Homo sapiens: one gene and its partner. The protein of the gene in region 1 purifies or fractionates together with the protein of each later gene. This does not show direct contact. Each region holds a gene or a part of one and is shown on either strand. Other genes may lie near its edges. The genes, in order: CLK4 and RASA4.

What was found.
Region 2: the proteins of CLK4 (region 1) and RASA4 purify together in Homo sapiens (affinity purification with mass spectrometry, with the first as the bait; one large-scale study listed by BioGRID). This does not show direct contact.

Annotation. Positions count from the first base shown.
Region 1 is NC_000005.10:178,602,956-178,606,771, forward strand, and holds part of CLK4 (dual specificity protein kinase CLK4), read right to left. Parts: intron 2,428-3,816; coding exon 2,348-2,427; intron 980-2,347; coding exon 889-979; intron 803-888; coding exon 662-802; 3' UTR 1-661. UniProt on the Homo sapiens protein: Dual specificity kinase acting on both serine/threonine and tyrosine-containing substrates.
Region 2 is NC_000007.14:102,589,145-102,592,960, reverse strand, and holds part of RASA4 (ras GTPase-activating protein 4), read left to right. Parts: intron 1-506; coding exon 507-676; intron 677-2,664; coding exon 2,665-2,802; intron 2,803-3,816. UniProt on the Homo sapiens protein: Ca(2+)-dependent Ras GTPase-activating protein, that switches off the Ras-MAPK pathway following a stimulus that elevates intracellular calcium. Functions as an adaptor for Cdc42 and Rac1 during FcR-mediated phagocytosis.

The DNA of each region.
Region 1 (3,816 bases):
TTCCAAGCTGACTTTCCAGTTAGATTTTAATCTTAAATAAAGTGTGTATGTGGTTTTATTAAACAAACTGTCACAATGGACAAACTGCATGCCTTTCCATGAATGTCTGGTTATCACCCTGACATCACCCAATGAAAAAGAATACAACACTTAAAATTTAATAGAATTCTAACAGTAAACATTTTCTGAGTTTTGGTTTCTAGTACCTGCTTATCTAGAGTTAATAATAATCACCCGTTCAACAATTACAGAAGAAAAACTTTTAAAGTTAAGTTCTAAATTTGAAGTATATAAAGAATATTCCTTTAAGAATATAAAGTAGTCAAGATTTCCTTTTACTCAAAAAAAATCACTTCAGAGGTGACCTCCATGTACAAAAGGCAAGATCAATCACATTTATCACTGGACACAAAGGATATTTCAAAGGTATTTAAAAATGGTAATTTCAAAAAGAAAAATTAATTTTAATTTTTCTAATGCATTATCAAGACCATACTTGCTTAACAAGTTAATTATGCTATTGATACAAAACATACAATATTTACACTTAACTGTACAAAATAATTTAATGTTTACAAAAATATTAGAATGTTTAGTTGACTGACACAGTCTTAAGTAATCTCTTCTAGAGAAGTATATAGTAAGACCACTGATTCCCATTTCATTTCTTTTTTAATAAGTCAAAGAAAGGATGCTGCAATGCTTCATCCAAGGTAATTCTTTGAGTTGGATCATATTCTAACATTCTTCGAACCAGGTCAAACAGTTTCTCATGTTCTTCATCATGACAAAGCATAAATTCCTGGGGGAGAAATGTTTTTGTTTTAAAAAAAATTATTAATAGTGCAAACACGTGGTTTATTTAACCTTTAATCTTTTTTCTTTTACCTTCAACGGTTTGCAGCGTCTCCTAACATATCTACCAGCAGAACTGTGTTCATCCCAATCTAGCTGGTTATGGTGAAAATACTTGCGTTTTCTACAGAAAAAAAAAAAAAGTCTGGATTAGTAAAATAACAAGAGTCGTATCTTTACCCTGCACCCATGAGGGGAGACATGGAAAGCAGCTCTCTCTAAGTGTATAGACTTATATAATATAGATGCATACAATTTTTAAAAACCTCAGCAACAATTATATATCGGACACCTCATATCCTCCACCCTGTGAGGTTTTAGTCTCTCAACTAAGTTGTTCCTATCACATATGGAACAATGTCAGCTTAAAACTAGGGGCCCCCTGGATCCAGTCCTAAAATTCTGTTTTCACTAGATCTAGAATGGGGCTGGAAATCTTTAAAGAACTCCCTCGGTGGCTTCTGCGATGAAGCTGTGTTTGGAAATACCACCTTGTCTAAGAATATACAGCTGGTTAAGGACAGAATAAATTTCACACTTAGAGTGATATGATTCCAAAACACAAGCTTTTCCATATTCTATGTATTATTTTTACATCGCCTTAAGAAAACACTTATGCAAACGTAAACTTGAGTTAAAAAAAAAAAAAAAACAAAAAAAACCCAAAAGCCATTTTGTTTACTAGATCAGTGGTCCTCAACCCTTTTGGAACCAGGGACCGGTTTCATGGAAGCAGATCCGGGGAGGAGGGATGATGGTTTGGAATCAAACTTCCACCTCAGATCATCAGGCATTAGATTCTCATAAGGAACCTTCATGCAACGTAGATCCCTCACGTGCGCAGTTCACAATAGGGTTCACATTCCTATGAGAATCTAATGCCACTGCTGATCTGACAGGAGGTGCAGCTCAGGCAGCAATAATGCTCACTCACCCGCCACTCACCTCCTGTTGTACAGCCCAGTTCCGAGGGGTTGGGGACCCCTGCACTAGATCACAAGGTAAATATTTTTTATTATATTAGTTTTTAAAAACATGGCCTAGTGCAGTGACTCACACCTGTAATTCCAGCACTTTGGGAGGCCAAGGCAGGCAGATCACCTGAGGTCAGGAGTTCAAGACCAGCCTGACTAACACGGTGAAACCCCATCTCTACTAAAAATACAAAAATTAGCCAGGCATAGTGGTGGGCACCTGTAATCCCAGCGACTCAGGGGGCTGAGGCAGAAGAATCACTTGAACCCAGGAGGCAGAGGCTGCAGTGAGCTGAGATCGTGCCACTGCACTCCAGCCTGGGTGACAGAGTGAGACTCCATCTCAAAAAAAAAAAAAGGAGTAAGATGAAGTTAGAAGTTACCTCCAGTACAGAAAAAAAAAAAAAAGTCAAAATCTATAGTCCTTGGAATCAGTATTACAACAACGTTGGGTTTTCTGTAGTTTGAATATATGCTATTGCACATATCCAACAAAAGTCTTGAATCTTAAAACATACCTTGTTTTCTGAATCATGTGTTGTGGTATGGGTCCTAATATTCGTTCCATCATTGCCAGGTGCTCTTTACTATCATGAGTCTAAAACATGTAAGAAAAAGAAATTTAGTACTCTCCATTTCCCTACAAACACATTAACTTGTTTAATCTAAAATTTTAGTTTCCTTCTTTATTTGCACTTCTTACACTGTTTAAAGAATAACTGGGCAAGGTTACCAGAAAAACTGTCTCCTCATTTAATCAGCTGCTTAACCAAAATTAACATCCAGTACCCAATGAATAGTTCACTTGTTAACACTTACTACTCCCAGGCAACAGACATACATACAGTCCCAATAATTCTCTAAACAATTCTGAGCTAGGTATGTGGGAACATGAATTTCAAAAAGGTTAAGATACTACCTCAAAGTCATATAGCTCATATATGAGGAAAGTTAAGCTATCAACCCATGTCAAAGCACATATCCTTAAATTAGTAACGGAGGCTTGGCTGAAGTAGAATACAGAAAACGGTCAAACTTACAGCTGGAATGGTATGCTTCTAGAGCAGAGGTTGGCAAACTTCTGTAAAGGGCCAGATAGTAAATATTTTAGGCTTGGCTCGTCATGAGTGGTCCCTATTGCATACTCTTCTTCTTTTTGTAAAAACAGGCACCAGGCAGGATTTCACCATGGGCCAAAGTTTGCTAACCCTTGTTCTGGAGAGCAGAGGCTGTATGCAACACTTTTAAAAGAAATCTATCAACTACTGTGCCTTGCATATTGCTTCCAAATCGTTGTGATACATGACAGGAATAAGTAATACTAGCTTCACATTTTAAAGAAATTCCTTAGTTTAAGAGTATTTTGCAGGGTGGAGTTAAAATATAAACCACCTCTCAAATAATATATACTTCATTTAAAACTCAAAGTGATTTATAATCACAAAATCACCGGAAGCATCCATTTCATATTAGTCAGATTGATGAAAGCATTCACTTTGCTTAACTTTTTCTTGACCCTACAGCTCACCACTGCAAAACCAGACAATACCTCCCAGAACTGATTAATAACCATGATTCTAAGACATCAAACTTATCTATAAACTCAGAGTACTTTTCAACAGGATCTCTACAGATTAGACAGAAACAGAAATCTGGCGAGGTGCCCCACGAACAGGGAATTCATCATTGTGCAACAGCTGCCTAAGTGACTCTTAGCCCATCATAGCTGCATGCCCCCTGCACTGCTCTAACTTCAAATCAACCTCAACAGTACTAGCTGGGATCTCCAGCCCCTCTTCCCCAAACAAAACAACACAACACCTCGATCATACCATGACCCTATTTAAAGTTCTTCAATGGTTGCATCACCTAAAGCTTTCAAGAATTTAAATTTCAGGCTGGGTGCGGTGGCTCACACCTGTAATCCCAGCACTTTGGGAGGCCAAGGAGGGTAGATCACTTGAGGTCAGGAGTTCGAGACCAGCCT
Region 2 (3,816 bases), on another chromosome or scaffold:
CTACTGCTGACGTTTGCTCCGCCCTTGAGCCCCACGGCCCCACCCATCGCTGTTTGTTCCTCTCGTGGCCCCACCCACCGCCTGCTGTTGGCATTTGCCAGGCCCCCAGGCCATAGACCCACGCACCACTGTTTGTGCTTCCTGTGACCCTGCCCACTGCCTGCCGTTGACGTTTGCCCCACCCCTAGACCCATGGCCTCACCCCCCCATCATCTGCGCCTGTTGACATTTGCTCCATCCTTGAGCTCCATAGCCCCGCCGCCACCTGCTACTGACGCGTGTCCCGCCTCCAAGCCCATGGCCCTGCCTTCCTCAGTCCACCTGTCACCCCGCTCACCACCAGCTGTTGATGTTTGCTCCGCCCTTGAGCCCCATGACTACGTCCACTGCCTGCTGTTCAGATTTGCTCAGCCCTTGAGCCCCATGGCCCCTCCCACTGCTCCGCTCCCCCCAGTCCCGCCCTCATTCACTGGGCTCTCTATTCCCCTCCCTCCCTGGCCTGGCAGAGCTGGACCTGCAGCGGACGCTGAGTTTGCAGGCGCCACCTGTGAAGGAGGGGCCACTCTTCATCCACAGGACCAAGGGCAAGGGCCCCCTCATGTCCTCCTCCTTCAAGAAGCTCTACTTCTCCCTCACTACCGAGGCCCTCAGCTTCGCGAAGACGCCCAGCTCCAAGGTGGGTAAGGAGGGAGGCCGGCAAGTGGGGCTCTGAGAGGCCGGCAAGTGGGGCACCTGTCCCCTTCCTTGGAGCCCACTTGAGGTACCCCCGGGGTCAGAGAAGAAAGCCAGGTGTGTGGCATCTGTACTGCTTGTCAGAACCTAGGAGGGCCGGGCACGGTGGCTCACGCCTGTAATCCCAGGACTTTGGGAGGCCAAGGCGGGTGGATCACTTGAGGTTAGGAGTTTGAGACCAGCCTGGCCAACATGGAGAAACCCCGTCTCTACTAAAAATACAAAAAATCAGCCGGGTGTGGTGGTGGGTGCCTGTAGTCCCAGCTACTCGGGAGGCTGAGGCACGGGAATCGCTTGAACCTGGGAGGCAGAAGTTGCAGTGAGCCGAGATCGTGCCACTGCACTCCAACCTGGGCAACAGAGCAAGACTCCATCTCAAAAAAAAAAAAAATGAATATGGAGGAAGTTGATCCGACCTTACCAGGTTGTTGAGGATTAAATGAGATGATCTCCCTAAGGGTCCTGACCCAGGGCCTGGCAGGTAGTACTATTTAGGCAAATGATATTATTAAAGATAGTATATCACCTGGGCTGCTAGATGAGTAGGAGGCTAGGGCAAACAGGGGAGGCTTCCTGGAAGAGGCAGGAATATAGAAGCACGGAATCTTGGCGTGGGAAGGGATCTCAAAGATCACCTTGTACAGCCCTCTCTGAGTCATGGGTCACCTCTCCTGCAAGCTCTCTTCTCCCAGGAAGGGCTGAGGACATACTTCCTCCATGGACCTGGTGACTGCTTGCTGTACACCTGCCCCCAGTCATGCAGGCTATGGGGATGATCTTCCAGGAGTACCCAGCCTAGCCCTGGGCAGGTGAGAGCGGGCTAGGAGTAGGTGAAGGAGCTCATCACCCACCCTGTTCTCAACCAGCTCAGGGGTCCCACCAGATGAGGGGCCCGCCCCTTCCGACCAAAGACCCCTCAGATGATGATAATTATTTTTTGAGACAGGGTCTTGCTCTGTCACCCAGGCTGTAGTGCAGTGGTGCGATCATAGCTGACCGCAGCCTCAAACTCCTGGGCTCAAGCAATCTTCCTACCTCAGCCTCCCGAGTAGCTGGGACTACAGGCACGTGCCACCAAGCCCAGCTAATTTTCTTTAACTTTTTTTTTTGCGGAGATGGGGTCTTGCTATGCTGCCCAGGCTGTTCTCAAACTCCTGGCCTCAGGCAATCCTCCTGCCCCAGCCTCCCAAAGCACTCAGATGATTATTATACATCTTCCTTGCCAGGGTTGAAAGATTTGACTACATGGGCATTATTTAATTCTGGTCCCATTTTTTTTTTTTTTTTTGAGATGGAGTTTCGCTTTTGTTGCCCAGGCCAGAGTGCAATGGTGCGATCTTGGCTCACCGCAACCTCCGCCTCCCGGGTTCAAGCGATTCTCCTGCCTCAGCCTCCCAAGTAGCTGGGATTACAGGCATGCGCCACCATGCCCGGCTAATTTTGTATTTTTAGTAGACACAGAGTTTCTCCATGTTTGTCAGGCTGGTCTCGAACTCCCAACCTCAGGTGATCCGCCTTCCTCGGCCTCCCAAAATGCTGGGATTACATGTGTGAGCCACTGCGCCCGGTCAGGATATGACTATTAGAGCCTGGGACTACAAAAGCAAGTTGGAAAATTAATAAATGCAAAGTCACAAAGCCTTGGCCACGGCCGGATTGACTTTGTAGCCCAGGGAATGCTGGCTGTCCCGACACTACCCCAAAGCTCACACCTCCGAGGCCTTCTGGGAGTGCCCCCCAGAGAGGCCAGGTCCTCCTCTCCCAGTTGCTGGGCACTTGGTCACCATCAGTCTGTGCTCTGCCCTGGCTGAGGTCACTCTAGGTCTCCCATGCCTACCCCTGGTGCTGCAGAAGGGGAGACTGAGGCCCAGAGATGGGGAATGGAATGCCCCTGGCTAGGTCCCTGAGCCTCCTCCTCCCTGCCTGCCCCAGAAAAGCGCCCTCATCAAGTTAGCCAACATCCGGGCAGCGGAAAAGGTTGAGGAAAAGAGCTTTGGCGGCTCGCACGTCATGCAGGTCATCTACACGGACGACGCCGGCAGGCCCCAGACTGCCTACCTGCAGTGCAAGGTGCGGGGAGGGGAGCGGGTGCTGTGGGAGTGGCCTGAACACTGTGGGAGTGGCTTGGGTGCTGTGGGAGAGGCCTGGGTACTGTGGGAGTGGCATGAGTCCTGTGGGAGTGGCCTGGGTATTGTGGGAGAGGCCTGAGCTCTATGGGAGTGGCCTGGGTGCTGTGGGAGTGCCCTGGATGCTATGGGAATGCCCTGGGTGCTGTGGGAATGGCCTGGGTGCTATGGGAGTGGCCTGAGCTCTGTGGGAGTGGCCTGGGTGCTGTGGGAGGGGCCTGAGTGGACTGGATGAGAAAAGAGTTGATTGAGCTTCTCGCCCCGCTACCAGCTACATCAGGCACCGCAGGGTGTGTCTAATCTGGGAGGTGTCAGGGACAGGTGTGTGTGTGTTGTCCAGGGGCCTGAGCCCCCAGGAGGCCATGGCCCATGTCTTTCCCTGGGCATCCATGTGTAGGTCTGTGTGTGGGCCAGTGCACAGACAGGTGCATCCCCGTGATGTGAAATTTGCACGTTGCACCCGTTTGTTGGAAACTATTTCCAGATAACTGAGATGGGGGCCAGGCACGCTGGTTCACACGGATAATCCCAGCATTCTAGCCAGGGCAACAGAGCAAGACCCTTTCTCTAAAACAGAAAGTCTGAGCTGGCACCTGTGTGGTTCTGTGTCTGTATCAATGCCTAATAATCAAACATTATGCTGTGTGTGGCTCTGGGTGCATGTTCTCAAGTAACCTTCTCATCTGTTCCTTCATTAACTCATTCATTCATTTATTTAAAAAATACTTACTGAGCACCTCCTAGGTTCCAGGCATGATTCTAGGTGAGGGGATACAGTGGCAGATGAGGCAGAGTCCTGCCCTCATGGAGCTGATATCCCTGGGAGAAGATGGGCCAATAAATACATGTTTCAAATGTCGGCTCATGCCTGTAGTCCCAGTACTTTGGGAGGCTGAGGTGGGAGGATCACTGGAGGCCAGGAGTTTGAGAACAGCCTGGCCAATGTAGCAAGACCCCA